3 separate regions of the Homo sapiens genome follow, and regions 1 and 2 are each linked to region 3. The links come from fine-mapping of genetic effects on gene expression. A gene starts in region 3. Each other region holds a variant in brackets. All regions are shown on one strand. Distances are from middle to middle. Region 1 overlaps RYR1 (ryanodine receptor 1). Region 2 overlaps RYR1 (ryanodine receptor 1). Region 3 holds the start of MAP4K1 (mitogen-activated protein kinase kinase kinase kinase 1).

The links. PIP is the estimated chance that this variant, and not a neighbour inherited with it, causes the effect.
Region 1: its variant is fine-mapped to the expression of MAP4K1 in whole blood (TOPMed, PIP above 0.99). The same link has a PIP of 0.9 or more in blood mononuclear cells.
Region 2: its variant is fine-mapped to the expression of MAP4K1 in whole blood (TOPMed, PIP 0.91).

What each region holds. Positions count from the first base shown.
Region 1 is chr19:38,545,736-38,549,834 of GRCh38, forward strand. It overlaps RYR1 (ryanodine receptor 1), which reads left to right. Exons shown (of 106, transcript NM_000540.3): 88 at 710-791; 89 at 2,498-2,685. Among named protein-coding and RNA genes, the nearest start is that of MAP4K1-AS1, 49 kb to the right of the region's middle. The variant A/G (reference allele first, on the strand shown) is at 1,879.
Region 2 is chr19:38,525,765-38,529,863 of GRCh38, forward strand. It overlaps RYR1 (ryanodine receptor 1), which reads left to right. Exons shown (of 106, transcript NM_000540.3): 72 at 1,229-1,288; 73 at 1,883-2,020; 74 at 2,542-2,654; 75 at 2,835-2,931; 76 at 3,187-3,293. Among named protein-coding and RNA genes, the nearest start is that of MAP4K1-AS1, 69 kb to the right of the region's middle. The variant C/G (reference allele first, on the strand shown) is at 2,324.
Region 3 is chr19:38,615,915-38,620,013 of GRCh38, forward strand. MAP4K1 (mitogen-activated protein kinase kinase kinase kinase 1) reads right to left here and starts at 2,039. Exons shown (of 31, transcript NM_001042600.3): 1 at 1,883-2,039; 2 at 1,654-1,711; 3 at 1,440-1,530; 4 at 281-345. The coding sequence starts at 1,981. EIF3K (eukaryotic translation initiation factor 3 subunit K) reads left to right here and starts at 3,274. Exons shown (of 8, transcript NM_013234.4): 1 at 3,274-3,413. The coding sequence starts at 3,355. RefSeq lists an enhancer at 2,563-2,612.

The DNA.
Region 1 (4,099 bases), 70 kb before region 3:
GGGAGGCAGAAGTTGCAGTGAGCCGAGATTGCGCCATTACATTCCGGCCTGGGCAACAAGAGCAAAACTCTGTCTCAAAAAGAAAGAAATTACCACTTTGTGAGCCAAAAGTGATCACATGTTGGCAATTTTATGTGACTCAACCTAACATAAATAGGGGCCATGAGGCAAAACTTTGTATTGGAGGTTTCTATGGGCCCTACACTGTGGCCCTATGTTCCCCGCAGACGGCTTACCAGAAAGCACATGGCTGTCTCTGCAGCCTTCCTCCTGAACCCAGAGTCCCACTCTTGCCATCACACATTATATTCAACATACATCTGTCAATCCCACCGTAGGCCAGGCACAGTGCTGGGCTCACATCCCTTCCTAGACCTGGGTCTCTGTCCCCAGTGTTTGTCTCTGTCTGTCTCTGTCTCTCTCTGCCCCAAATGTCTGCCCCGCAAGCCTCTCAGTCCTCCTTGTCTGCCAGCCTTCCCACTACCCATCACCTATCGAGCCCGTCCCCCAAGTGCCAACCCCACCCCCACAATCTTGTCTCTCTGCCCCTTCCCCTGCTTCCGAGGAACATGTCTGGACTCGGGTCCCCTCGGAGGTAAGAGGGGAGAAAACGGGTTTAGGCCCTGCTGGGTAGGTGAGGAGGGGGAGAAGCAACAGAGGTGGGGGAGGTGTATGCTGAGACCAGCCCTCACCGAGCTGGGATCTCTAGGACTCAAGCCAGATCGAGCTGCTGAAGGAGCTGCTGGATCTGCAGAAGGACATGGTGGTGATGTTGCTGTCGCTACTAGAAGGTAAACACCCAGGAGTGAGGGTGAGGGAACAGTAAAGAGGTTCAGAGAAGCCTGAGAATGGCCCCCTGAGACCCGGGAGACCCTAATCCTCAACCCCATCTGACATCGTGTCAGGATCCATGGGTTGATGAAGAAGCCATAATAGGCCAGATGCGGTGGCTACACCTGTAATCCCAGCACTTTGGGAGGCCGAGGTGGGAAGATCACCTGAAGTCAGGAGTTTGAGACCAGCCTGGGCAACATGGTGAGACCCTGTCTCTACTAAAAATACAAAAATTAGCCTAGTGTGGTGGTGTGTGCCTGTAGACCCAGCTACTCGGGAGGCTGAGGTGGGAGGATCACCAGAGCCCGGGAGGTCCAGGCTGCAGTGAGCTGTGATCACACCACTGCACTCCAGCCTGGGTGACAGAGCAAGACCCTGTCTCAAAAAAACAAACCCCAAAAACAAACCAAATGTCCAAATGTGGCAAAAGATAAACAATTGATGAATGTGGATATATTAGGATCCCTTTTTTTTTTTTTTCTTTTCTGAGACGGAGTCTCGCTCTGCCGCTCAGGCTGGAGGTGCGGTGGCGCGATCTCGGCTCACTGCAAGCTCCGCCTCCCAGGTTCACGCCATTCTCCTGCTTGGCCTCCCCGGTAGCTGGGACTACAGGCGCCCGCCACCACACCTGGCTAATTTTTTTTTTTTTTTTTTTGTATTTTTAGTAGAGACGGGGTTTCACCATGTTGGTCAGGATGGTCTGGATCTCCTGACTTCGTGATCCTCCCGCCTCAGCCTCCCAAAGTGCTGGGATTACAGACTTGAGCCACTGCGCCCAGCCTACATTAAAATTTAAAAATTACAAAAATAAACTGGAGCCAAGCTTCAGCTGCTGCCTTTAGAGGGAGTGTGGGATCGCAGTTTGCCAATCTCTACCTCTCCTTGCTGCTTACCACTGGCTAGCCTCAGTCTTCTGTGGACCCTCCTGACTGTGTGTACTGGTGGAAGTTTTAGTTGTGTAAGCCCTGAGGTCATGCAGCTCTGAGTTCAAATCCATTCTCCCCACTTTACTGGCTATGTAACTTTGAGTGCATGACTTTCTCT[A/G]TGTCTCAGTTTCTCTTCCTAAAAGTAGAGTCACACACTTCCCTTTTTGTGTGATTGTGCCAGGGTAGCATTTGGCACCTACCTTTAGCGTACATCATCATTATCTTTTTTTTTTTTTTTGAGACAGAGTCTCACTCCATCACCCAGGCTGGAGTGCAGTGGCACGATCTCGGCTCTGCAACCTCCGCCTCCCAGGTTCAAGCAATTCTCGTGCCTCAGCCTCCCAAGTAGCTGGAAATACAAGCACATGCCACCACGCCCAGCTGATTTTGTATTTTTAATAGAGACGGGGTTTCACCATGTTGGCCAGGCTGGTCTCAAACTCCTGGCCTCAAGTGATCCACCCACCTCGGTCTCCCAAAGTGCTGGGATTACAGGCGTGAGCCACCACGTCCGACCTGACATCATTAGCTTTACTGGGGGAGGTGGGCAAAGGCAGGATCAGCCAGGTTGGCACAGGAGGCTGACGCAGGTCAGGAAGGGACCTGTGGAGGGGAGGCTGTGGCTGGCCAGGGACACTCCAGCAGCGTGGTGGCTCCTGGGCTGGAAAGAGAGGCAAGCCTGGTGGGGCCCCAGAAGGGAGTGTTCACCGGCCACACTGACCTGGGGCTGCCTGCAGGGAACGTGGTGAACGGCATGATCGCCCGGCAGATGGTGGACATGCTCGTGGAATCCTCATCCAATGTGGAGATGATCCTCAAGTTCTTCGACATGTTCCTGAAACTCAAGGACATTGTGGGCTCTGAAGCCTTCCAGGACTACGTAACGGATCCCCGTGGCCTCATCTCCAAGAAGGACTTCCAGAAGGTGGGTGTGGGACATCGTGTGGGCCCAGGACTTGGGTGGGGTTGCCAAGGGCCAGCCATACCCTTCTGGCTGGCTGCCTCAGGCAAGAGACATCTCTGCAAGCCTCACTTTCCTTGTTTGTAAAATGAGGATAAAACAGTCCTTGGGTTATATGTATTCTGTTTTATTTCATTTTAGAGACAAGGTCTTTCTCTGTTGCCCAGGCTGGAGTGCAGTGGCGTGATCATAGCTCACTGCAGCCTTGACCTCCTGGCTTAAGCAATCCTCCCACCTCAGCCTCCTGAGTAGTTGGGACGACGGGTGTGTGACATCATGCCTGGCTAATTTTTAAGTTTATTTTTTGTAGAGATGTGGTCTCACTACATTACCCAGGCTCCTCTTGAACTCTTGGGCTCCAACAATTCTCCTACCTTGGCCTCCCAAAGTGCTGGGATTATAGGCATGAGCCACCTCGCTCAGCCCCCTTGGGTTATTTTGAGGATGAAATGCATTAACACAGATGAGAACCGTTATTACTGTTATCTTTATTGATAGTCATAACATTATCATTATTGTGAATAGGCATCAGTTATTCCATCAATAAACATTGGCTGGCTTTCTTCTCTGTGTAGGGCCTGTAGTGACACTATTGACGCATCAATGACCAAGATAGACACAGCCCGTGCTTTCATGGGTTTATAGTCTAATGGGGGAGGCAGTCACTAACTAGACCATTCCAAGTCTAAATAATGAGCCTGCTAGGAGGGAAGTGCTGGAACATCCTTATTCAGAAACCCACTCCTCCTCCTCTAACCACCTCTCCCATCCTAACTCTCCATCTTTTCTTCTGAGCCTCAGTTTCCTACTCTGTAAAATGGGGATAGGATAATCACATTAACCACTAACTATTGGCAGTGTGCGGTGGTTCATGCCTATAATCCCAGCAATTTGGGAGGCCGAGGTGGGAGGATCGCTTGAGCCCAAGAGTTCGAGATCAGCCTGGGCAACCTAGTGAAACCCTGTATCTATAAAAATAAAAATAAAACAACTATTAACTATTGTGAGGATGGGCAGTGCGGGCAGTACCTGGAATATGGTGAGTCCTCAAGAGATGTTAGCTGCTATTACTACTCCCTGATCTTTAATGTTACCATTTTGTTAACTTTTTATTTTGAAATAACTTCAGGTTTATAGAGACGTTGCAAGAACAGCACATAGAATTTCTGAATACCTTTCACCCACATTGCCCAAATGTTTTCTATTTACTATTTACTCCATCATGATTTCCCTTTCCTTTCCTTTTTTTTTTTTTTTTTTTTTTTTGAGACGGAGTTTTGCTCTTGTTGCCCAGGCTGGAGTGCAGTGGTGCAATCTCAGCTCAGTGCAACCTCCGCCTCCTGGGTTCAAGCGATTCTCCTGCCTCAGCCTCCTGAGT
Region 2 (4,099 bases), 90 kb before region 3:
TGGGACCCGCATGAGGACTGCAGGACCCCACTGCCCCCCCACCGGACCATGCCAAACCTGCTGAGACCCTGAGAGTCCCCCCAACAAGATGAGCCCCTGAGATCCTCTGAACCCTCCACCAAGGCCCCTTCAAGCCCCTTGGGACCTACTGAGACCCTCATGACCCCTCCTTCCCTCCCTGCCAAGACTGAACCTCTGGGTTCCTGCTGAGCCCTTGGCTCACCATCCCTTTCCTTCAGGACCCTGCTGACACCTGGGCCCTGTTGAAGCCCAACTAAGCCCCCAAGACTCTCAGGGGCTCAGGGAGCCCTGCGACCCTGCATAACTCCCCAGGATCCATGAACCCCAAGCCCGGGACTGTACCCAAACCTCTGAGGTCTCAACTGTCCTGGAGACCAAAATACCCGGGCTGTAGAACCTCTTAAGCTTGCTGGGATATCAAGGAGGCCTCCCGGGACCCCACTTACCCCTTGTGTGGGACAACAAGGACAATCTCCCTCCTCTCCGATCCTTTCCAGCTTCAGGGACTCTAAGGAACCCTCCCAGGATTCTGCCCCAAGACCCCTATAGCCCTCCCCCCAGGACCACACCAACACCCTGACAACCTACTAACCCCCTGGACCCCTAAAGACCACCGACTTCTCCCCTGCTACCACCAGGACACCCCTTCCCTCAGAACCTCAGGCACCTCCCAGGACTGCTGAGTCCTGCCAGGACGCCAGAGAGCCCTCCAGGGCTCCATGGACCCCTCACCTTGGTCCTTGAGGGCTCCCCGTCCTAGAACCCCAGTGAACCCCCACCCTGCTGATGCCCCCTTTGGCCCCTGTGTAACCAGTGACTCCGTTGACCTACGTGATCCCCCATGACCTCTGCTGACCCCTTCTGATCTTCAAAGACTCCCTGCCCCACTCTGACCCCCCAGTCATCCCTCTTTGGCCATATTTGACCTTTGATGAGATCCTCTTGTCACCCTTTGCCTCTTCCCAGACCTCCACGAGGCCCCTCGAATCCTTACTGTATCTTCAAGGTGACTCTGTGACCCTCCGGCCCCTCTAGGACCCCTTCTGACCCCGTCAACCTCTGCATCCTTTTGTTTCTCTCAGACCCCCACCCCCACCCCAGAAAAACCTCTTCAGTTCCTGGGGTGCTGGGCCTGGAAGGAAAGGGTTGTGGGTCAGGAAGGAGGATGGGACCTCCAGAGTGACCCAGCCTGGCTCTGTCTCCCCAGAAAGACACAGATGAGGAGGTCCGGGAATTTCTGCACAACAACCTTCACCTTCAGGGAAAGGTATGCCTCCTTCCTCTGCAAGCAAAAGAAGCAAGTCAGAAAGTAACCACAATATTAGTGAAGGTTTGAGCATTTACCAAAGACCAGGCATTGAAGAAAGACCTCAAAGGTCAGGAGTTTGAGACCAGCCTGGCCAATGTGGCGAAACCATGTTTCTACTAAAAATACAACAATTAGGCCGGGCACAATGGCTCATGCCTGTAATCCCAACACTTTGGAAGGCCAAGGCGGGCAGATCACCTGAGGTTAGGAGTTCGAGACCAGCCTGGCCAACGTGGTGAAACCCCGTCTCTACTAAAAGTACAAAATTAGCTGGGTGTGATGGCGGGTGCCTGTAGTCCCGGCTACTCAGGAGGCTGAAGCAGGAGAATCGCTTGAGCCCAGGAGGCAGAGGTTGCAGTGAGCTGAGATCGCACCACTGCACTCCAGCCTGGGTGATGGGGCGAGGCTCCGTCTCAAAACAAAAAGATGAAGAAGAAGAAAGGCCTCAACATGCACTCACCCATTGAGTCCTCCCAAAAACGGAAAGGGGACATCCGGCGGACACTGTGGGAAGGGTCCCTCACGCCGGCCACTCCTTCTTCCTCCCTTCAGGTCGAAGGCTCCCCGTCTCTGCGCTGGCAGATGGCTCTGTACCGGGGCGTCCCGGGTCGCGAGGAGGACGCCGATGACCCCGAGAAAATCGTGCGCAGAGTCCAGGAAGTGTCAGCCGTGCTCTACTACCTGGACCAGGTGGGTGGGGCCGGAGGGGTCTTTCTACTGGGTCTCTGGGCGGAGCCTGGCGGGGGGAGGGGCTTCAAGGATGTGGGTGGGGTCTGGAGATGACTATTAAGTTTTGGGGCAGGGCAGGAGGTGGAGCCTCGAGTTTAAGGCGAGGCTTAGAATGGATCGGGGGAGGGGTCTGCTGCTTAATCTTGCATCTGGGGGCGGGACAGGGAAGGGGCAGATCTTTAGGTCTAGGGGTGGGGCCTAGAGGAGATGCGTTGAGTTTGTGGGCAGGGCCTTGGGTGGGTCGTAGAATTGGTCGTGGCCTGG[C/G]TCGTGGTCCTGGCTCTGTGGGACCTGGCCTAGGATGGAAACTTAGGTCTGGAGGCGGAGTCAGGACCCTGACTCTGTTGGTGGAGACAAGGTTTTCCTTCTGCCGTGTGAGTCTTAACCTGAATATGGACTTCGACACAGCTGGGCAGTTTCATCCAGGGCTGGGAGTGAGAGGGGCAGGGTCTGGGGATGTGACTGTCCTGCTATCCCCTCCCCAGACCGAGCACCCTTACAAGTCTAAGAAGGCCGTGTGGCACAAGCTTTTGTCCAAACAGCGCCGGCGGGCAGTCGTGGCCTGTTTCCGTATGACGCCCCTGTACAACCTGCCCACGTAAGGCCCCCAGGGACAAGGGAAGCGTGAAGGGCTGCGGAGAAAGGGTGGCTGGAGAGTCTGGAGAATGGAGGGCCAACGTGATGGGGCCTTGAGGGTGGTTGGGGGCTGCAGGCGCATGGGAGGTCGGGAAGCACGGAGGAGGGCGCGTCCCAGTGACGTCACACCTCTCCCCTGCAGGCACCGGGCATGTAACATGTTCCTGGAGAGCTACAAGGCTGCATGGATCCTGACTGAAGACCACAGTTTTGAGGACCGCATGATAGATGACCTTTCAGTGAGCTGGGACCCGCCTGGGGGAGTGGGGGGCGAGCTGGATAGGGCTGGGGCGGAGGCCACCCTTGGCACACCTCCAGGGGTCGGCCCTCCACATCAAGGGGTATAGAAATGCCAGCTCCTGGCTTGAGTAGAACCAAAGTAGGGCGCAGGATGTGGGAAAAGAGAAAAAAAAATCCAGACCAACAGGGACATGGGGGCAGTGACAGGAGGGGACTCTAGAAACCCTCTCCCCAAGTCTCCCCTCTCCCACCAGAAAGCTGGGGAGCAGGAGGAGGAGGAGGAAGAGGTGGAAGAGAAGAAGCCAGACCCCCTGCACCAGTTGGTCCTGCACTTCAGCCGCACTGCCCTGACGGAAAAGAGGTGAAGACTCTTGCCAGGGCCCCAGAAATGCCCCCAAGGTCCTGGGGCCACCCCCAGCCCAGCAGCTTCCCTGTGCCTCAGGAGAGGCCCTCCAGGTCCTGGGGGAGCCCAAGACAGACGGATCTTTAAATATCACTTTGCTGGTCAGGCACGGTGGCTCACGCCTGTAGTCCCAGCAATCTGGGAGGCTGAGGCAGGCAATCACTTGAGCCCAGGAGTTCAAGACCAGCCTGGCCAATATGGCAAAACCCCGTTTCTACAAAAATACAATAAATAGCCAGGCTTGGTGGTGGGCACTTGTAATCCCATCTACTCAGGAGGCTGAGGCGGAAGAATCGCTTGAACCTGGGAGGCGGAGGTTGCAGTGAGCCGAGATCATACCACTGCACTCCAGCCTGGGCGACAGAGCGAGACTCTGTCTCAAAAAGAAAAGAAAAGGAACGTAAATGTCACTTTGCTAGGACAGGCACAGCCAACATACACCGTTGCATGGCTGAACACTTCACAAGGGCATGTCTGAGGGGTTCGTATCACAGACAATGTAGATTAACTAGGCTTTTCTAGAAGAAAGTGTCTTGCTCAAATAAAATCAGTATATTATGAAAAAAATCCATATGTATGACAAATTTCCAACAGACAGAAGTAGTGGGGAGGTTTTCTGTAATTCCCTCAAAAGCTTCATGTAGGCTAATGACAGGCTTAGTAATAAATAATTGTGATGCAGATGGCGCAGCTGCTGCCGCTGCTGCTGACAGTAGCAGGCAGCCATTCATCAAATGCTTATTATGTGTCAGGCACCAAGCTAA
Region 3 (4,099 bases):
TCCCAAAGTGCTGGGATTACAGGCGTGAGCCACCACACCAGGCCCAGCAGTTATATTAAAAAAAAAAAAAAAAAAAGCCAGGCACAGTGGCTCAAGCCCGTAGTTTCAGCACTTCGACAGCTGAAGGCAAGAGGATCAGCTCAGCCCAGGAGTTTGAAATATGGCCCAGAAAGACAGTTCCTGTGAGATACACACACAGAGACGGAAGAGGTGAATTTGGGTCGGGGTTGGGGGGTGGGGATAGGGAGGGGTGCTTGGGTCCCGTTGTCCTTTCTCTAACCTTGGTAGATGTCCTGGAGAGAACCAGCCCCACAGAATTCCATGCAGATCCAGAGTTTCTGCAACCTGCAGTGGTTCAAGAGTAAGAATAATAATAGCAGTAAATACATTATTATTTGCAGGAAAGCCCCTGGTTTGCTTCTGTCTTGTTCTAGTTCAATAAGAACTTTAACGTAACAGCTCTCATCACTCCACCTCTCCTTGTCTACCAGAGTGAGGTTGTTTCATTCCCATTTTACAGACAAGGAAGTTAAGGCTCAGAGAGGAAATGTGAGTTCCGGGGCAAGTCAACTCAAACCTAGGCCTTTGGGCGGGACCCCACTGCCGTCCCACGCCAACCTAGGAGGCAGGGCAGAGATCTCACGGGTTGTGGAGATTTGGAGGGGACAGAGGGGCCCAGGGCACCTGTTCTGGGGAGCAGAGGTCATTATTGGGGCATCTGGAATATTAATTTGGGGATCAGGGAATTTAGGAGTTTATATTAAAGGAGCAGAGAGTGAAACTGGGTGAGCCAAAGAGCAGAATGGTGAGAGCTTCGTTTCAAGGGAGTTGATTTCAAATTCAGTTACTATGAAGAGATCAATTTGGGGTACTCTTGGTCAGAAATGGGAATTTTAGATTGGAGATTAGATTAGAGGCTGCTCTGGTCAGAAAAGTGGGACTTAGGAGTGAGGATCATGGTAGGGTTAGCCCAGTCAAAAATGGGGGTCCAGGATGGGAGGTCGGGTTATGGTGAGAAATGGAAGTTCAAGGTTAGAACTGAGGGTGCCAAGACCAGGCGCGGTGGATCACACCTGTAATCCCAGCACTTTCGGAGGCCGAGGCGAGTGGATCACAAGGTCAGGAGTTCAAGACCAGCCTGGCCAAGATGGTGAAACCCCATCTCTACTAAAAATACAAAAATTTGCCGGGCAGGGTGGTGAGCGCCTGTAATCCCAGCTACTCGGGAGTCTGAGGCAGAGAATTGCTTGAACCCAGGAGGCAGAGGTTGCAGTGAGCTGAGATCATGCCACTGCACTCCAGCCTGGCAACAGAACAAGACTCCATCTCAAAAAAGAAAAAGAAAAGAAAAAAAAAGAACTGAGGGTACCCCCATCAAGAAATGGGGACTCCGGGTTAGGGGCTGGGCTGGGTGCCAGGGTGGGTCTGAGGTTCATCACCAGAGATAACTCCCATGGTAGGCCACGATGTTGGCGTGCCGGCAAGTTTTCAATATGAGGATTTCCTTCTGAAGGGTGGAGACATCATCATCTGTGAGGAGGGCGGGAGAGAAAAGGCAGCTCGCATGGGGAGAGAGCTACAGGGGAGGTGATCCCAGTGTCCCAGGAGGCGAAGGTGGGGATGTGGGGAAGGAGCTCCATGTTCCCTCCTCACCAGGCTCCATCTTCACCATCTTCAGTGCCACCAGGTCCCCTGACACCTTGTCTCGAGCCTTGCAAAGGGGAAGTTGGCAGTCAGGCAGGCTCCATTTGCCAGAGTCCCTCCACAGCATCCCTGAGTCAAGGTCAAGAACTGGGACCCCCTCTTGCAGCCTCCTCCCTGCCGAGGGCTTGCCTTAAAGGTCACTGGTTGTAGGGTGTTGGGGACAGAGGGGCTTCCTCACCTTAAAGACTTCCCCATACGTGCCGCCACCCAGCCGCTGTAGCAGGTCATAGTGGTCCCGGGGGTCTCTATTGAAAATGTCAGGGTCCACGACGTCCATCCCTGGGGGCCTGAGCTGGGCCTGCGCCCAGGGGCCAGCAGGGCCTCAGGGCTCAACTTCTGGCACCTCCCTCCGTCCCCAGAAGCCCTGCACCCGCCTTGCCTCCGCGGGCTGTGGCCTCCCCCCTCCTCACTCTCGCTTCCTGCCCCAGCTGCACTGCACGACTGTGCAACGGGCTCCACCCCCCCGTCCCCTGGGCTCTGAGAGCCTCTGAGGGGCAGCTTGTCTTGGGACCCAAGGGACCACCCTCAACCTCCAAGGCCCAGGGCTGGATGTAAATGTGATGCAAATGATCTTAATCGTAACTGGGTTGGAGGGGGGTGCCTTAGAACCCCCGCCCCCGTCTCCTAGGTAGTGTCTAAACCTCTGCTGGGTGCTTGAAGGTTTGGCCACAACCCGAAGGCGGCAGGTCTGCAAAGGGATGGCTATGCAGTGTACATGCCTGTTCACCTGTCACATACATGCACTTGGGTTACCTCCTCTGCACTGCGCAGGCGTGTAGACGTGCATCTGCCTGGATACCTGTGTGCACAGTACACACGTGGATGTACCCAGGACATATACCTCCACATGCATGGCACATAACTGCATTTTGTAGGCCTGCAGTGTACAAAACCTATACATAATATATAATTCATGGCAGTACAAATGGGACGCTCGCCCTCAGCTCCAAGACCGGAACCTAATGGAGACGGGGCGCGATCCGGCGAAGTCCAGGAGCCCTCACCCCAGCCCCTGCCCGGCAGAGCACAGTAGCTTTGTGGGACCCTCCTCCTGGAGCTGGGGACCAAGGGCTGAGACTTGAAACTGGAGAGCTCAGGATCCTGCACCAGGCGCCCAGGCCTGTGGCAAGAGGGACCTCAGAACACCTCCCTCGGAACTTGGCCATGGCCTAAACGTAAGGCTGCTGCGTGCATTCCCGCAGAGCTCCGTGGCCTCATGGCCGCGCGCAATACAACGCGCGCGCACGCCGCCAGAGCTCCGGGTGCTTCCCGGTGAGTTCGCGCGCGCACGCTCCCGCGCTACCGGCACTGGAACTGGGTCTGTGAGGCCCGGGAAAAGCTTAGCCCCGCCCCCTCGCCACGAGAGGCGCCTGCGCACTGGGATCCAGTAAGATTTTTCTCACGCTGTCTGTCCAGCTTGAGTGGCGCGAATGCGCACGCGCCAATTGCGCCTGCGAGGAAGAAGTCACGTGGCAGCCGGAAAGCGTGGCGGCTGCTGCTAGAGCCTTTCCCTTTACCGCACCCAAGGAGCTGGAGCGACAACAACGACGTCGTTTCCGTTTCCACCACCTCTTCCTGTTCCCGTCCTTGAGGACGCCGTGCCGGGTCAGTGTTAGCCTCCAGCCCTGGTTGTGGAAGGCGACAGAAGTCATGGCGATGTTTGAGCAGATGAGAGCCAACGTGGGCAAGTTGCTCAAGGGTATCGACAGGTCTGAGCCCGGTTGGAGGAAGCGCTCTGGCCAAGCGGGGCGGAGGAGAGGGTTTTCCGGAGACAGCAAGGGGTGTTCAGGGTCCTGGGCTTGCCGCGGGGTGGGGTTTCTCTATCCTCCTGGAGGAGGAGATGCTTAAAGAAACGGCACTGAGCTGGGGGTAGTGGCTCACGCCTGTGATCCTAGCACTTTGGGAGGCCGAGGTAGGTGGGTCGCCTGAGCCCAGGAGTTAGAGACCAGCCTGGGCAACAGCCAAACCCCGTCTCTAAAAGAAAGAAACAAAAGCACTGCAAAGGCCTAGAAGCGAGAGAATCTTGGTACCACTCAGTCTCTTCGTAAATTGCCTTAAGGTTTCCTTCTCTGCTCCGCCTCCTTTGAGTGCCTCTTAATCTCTCCCTTCTCTGCTCTATAAGTCATTCATTCTCCACACGTTTACTGAAATAAACTGTCAGTGCTAGGCAATGCTGGGAACCACAGGCGAATCAGACAGCGGCAGATCATGCCTTCACGGTCTGAGTTCCCTTTCCATAAGGGAGACAAACCTGACAGCAGACAGCGATAGCCGGGAGAGATTAGAACTGAAATGGGGGAAGCAAAGGCCAGAGTGTTCAGGTGGACATGGAGGAAGTAGGCAGCGAGGTAGGCAGGAGAGGATGGGGCTGGATCAGGGTGGAGGCCTGAACAGG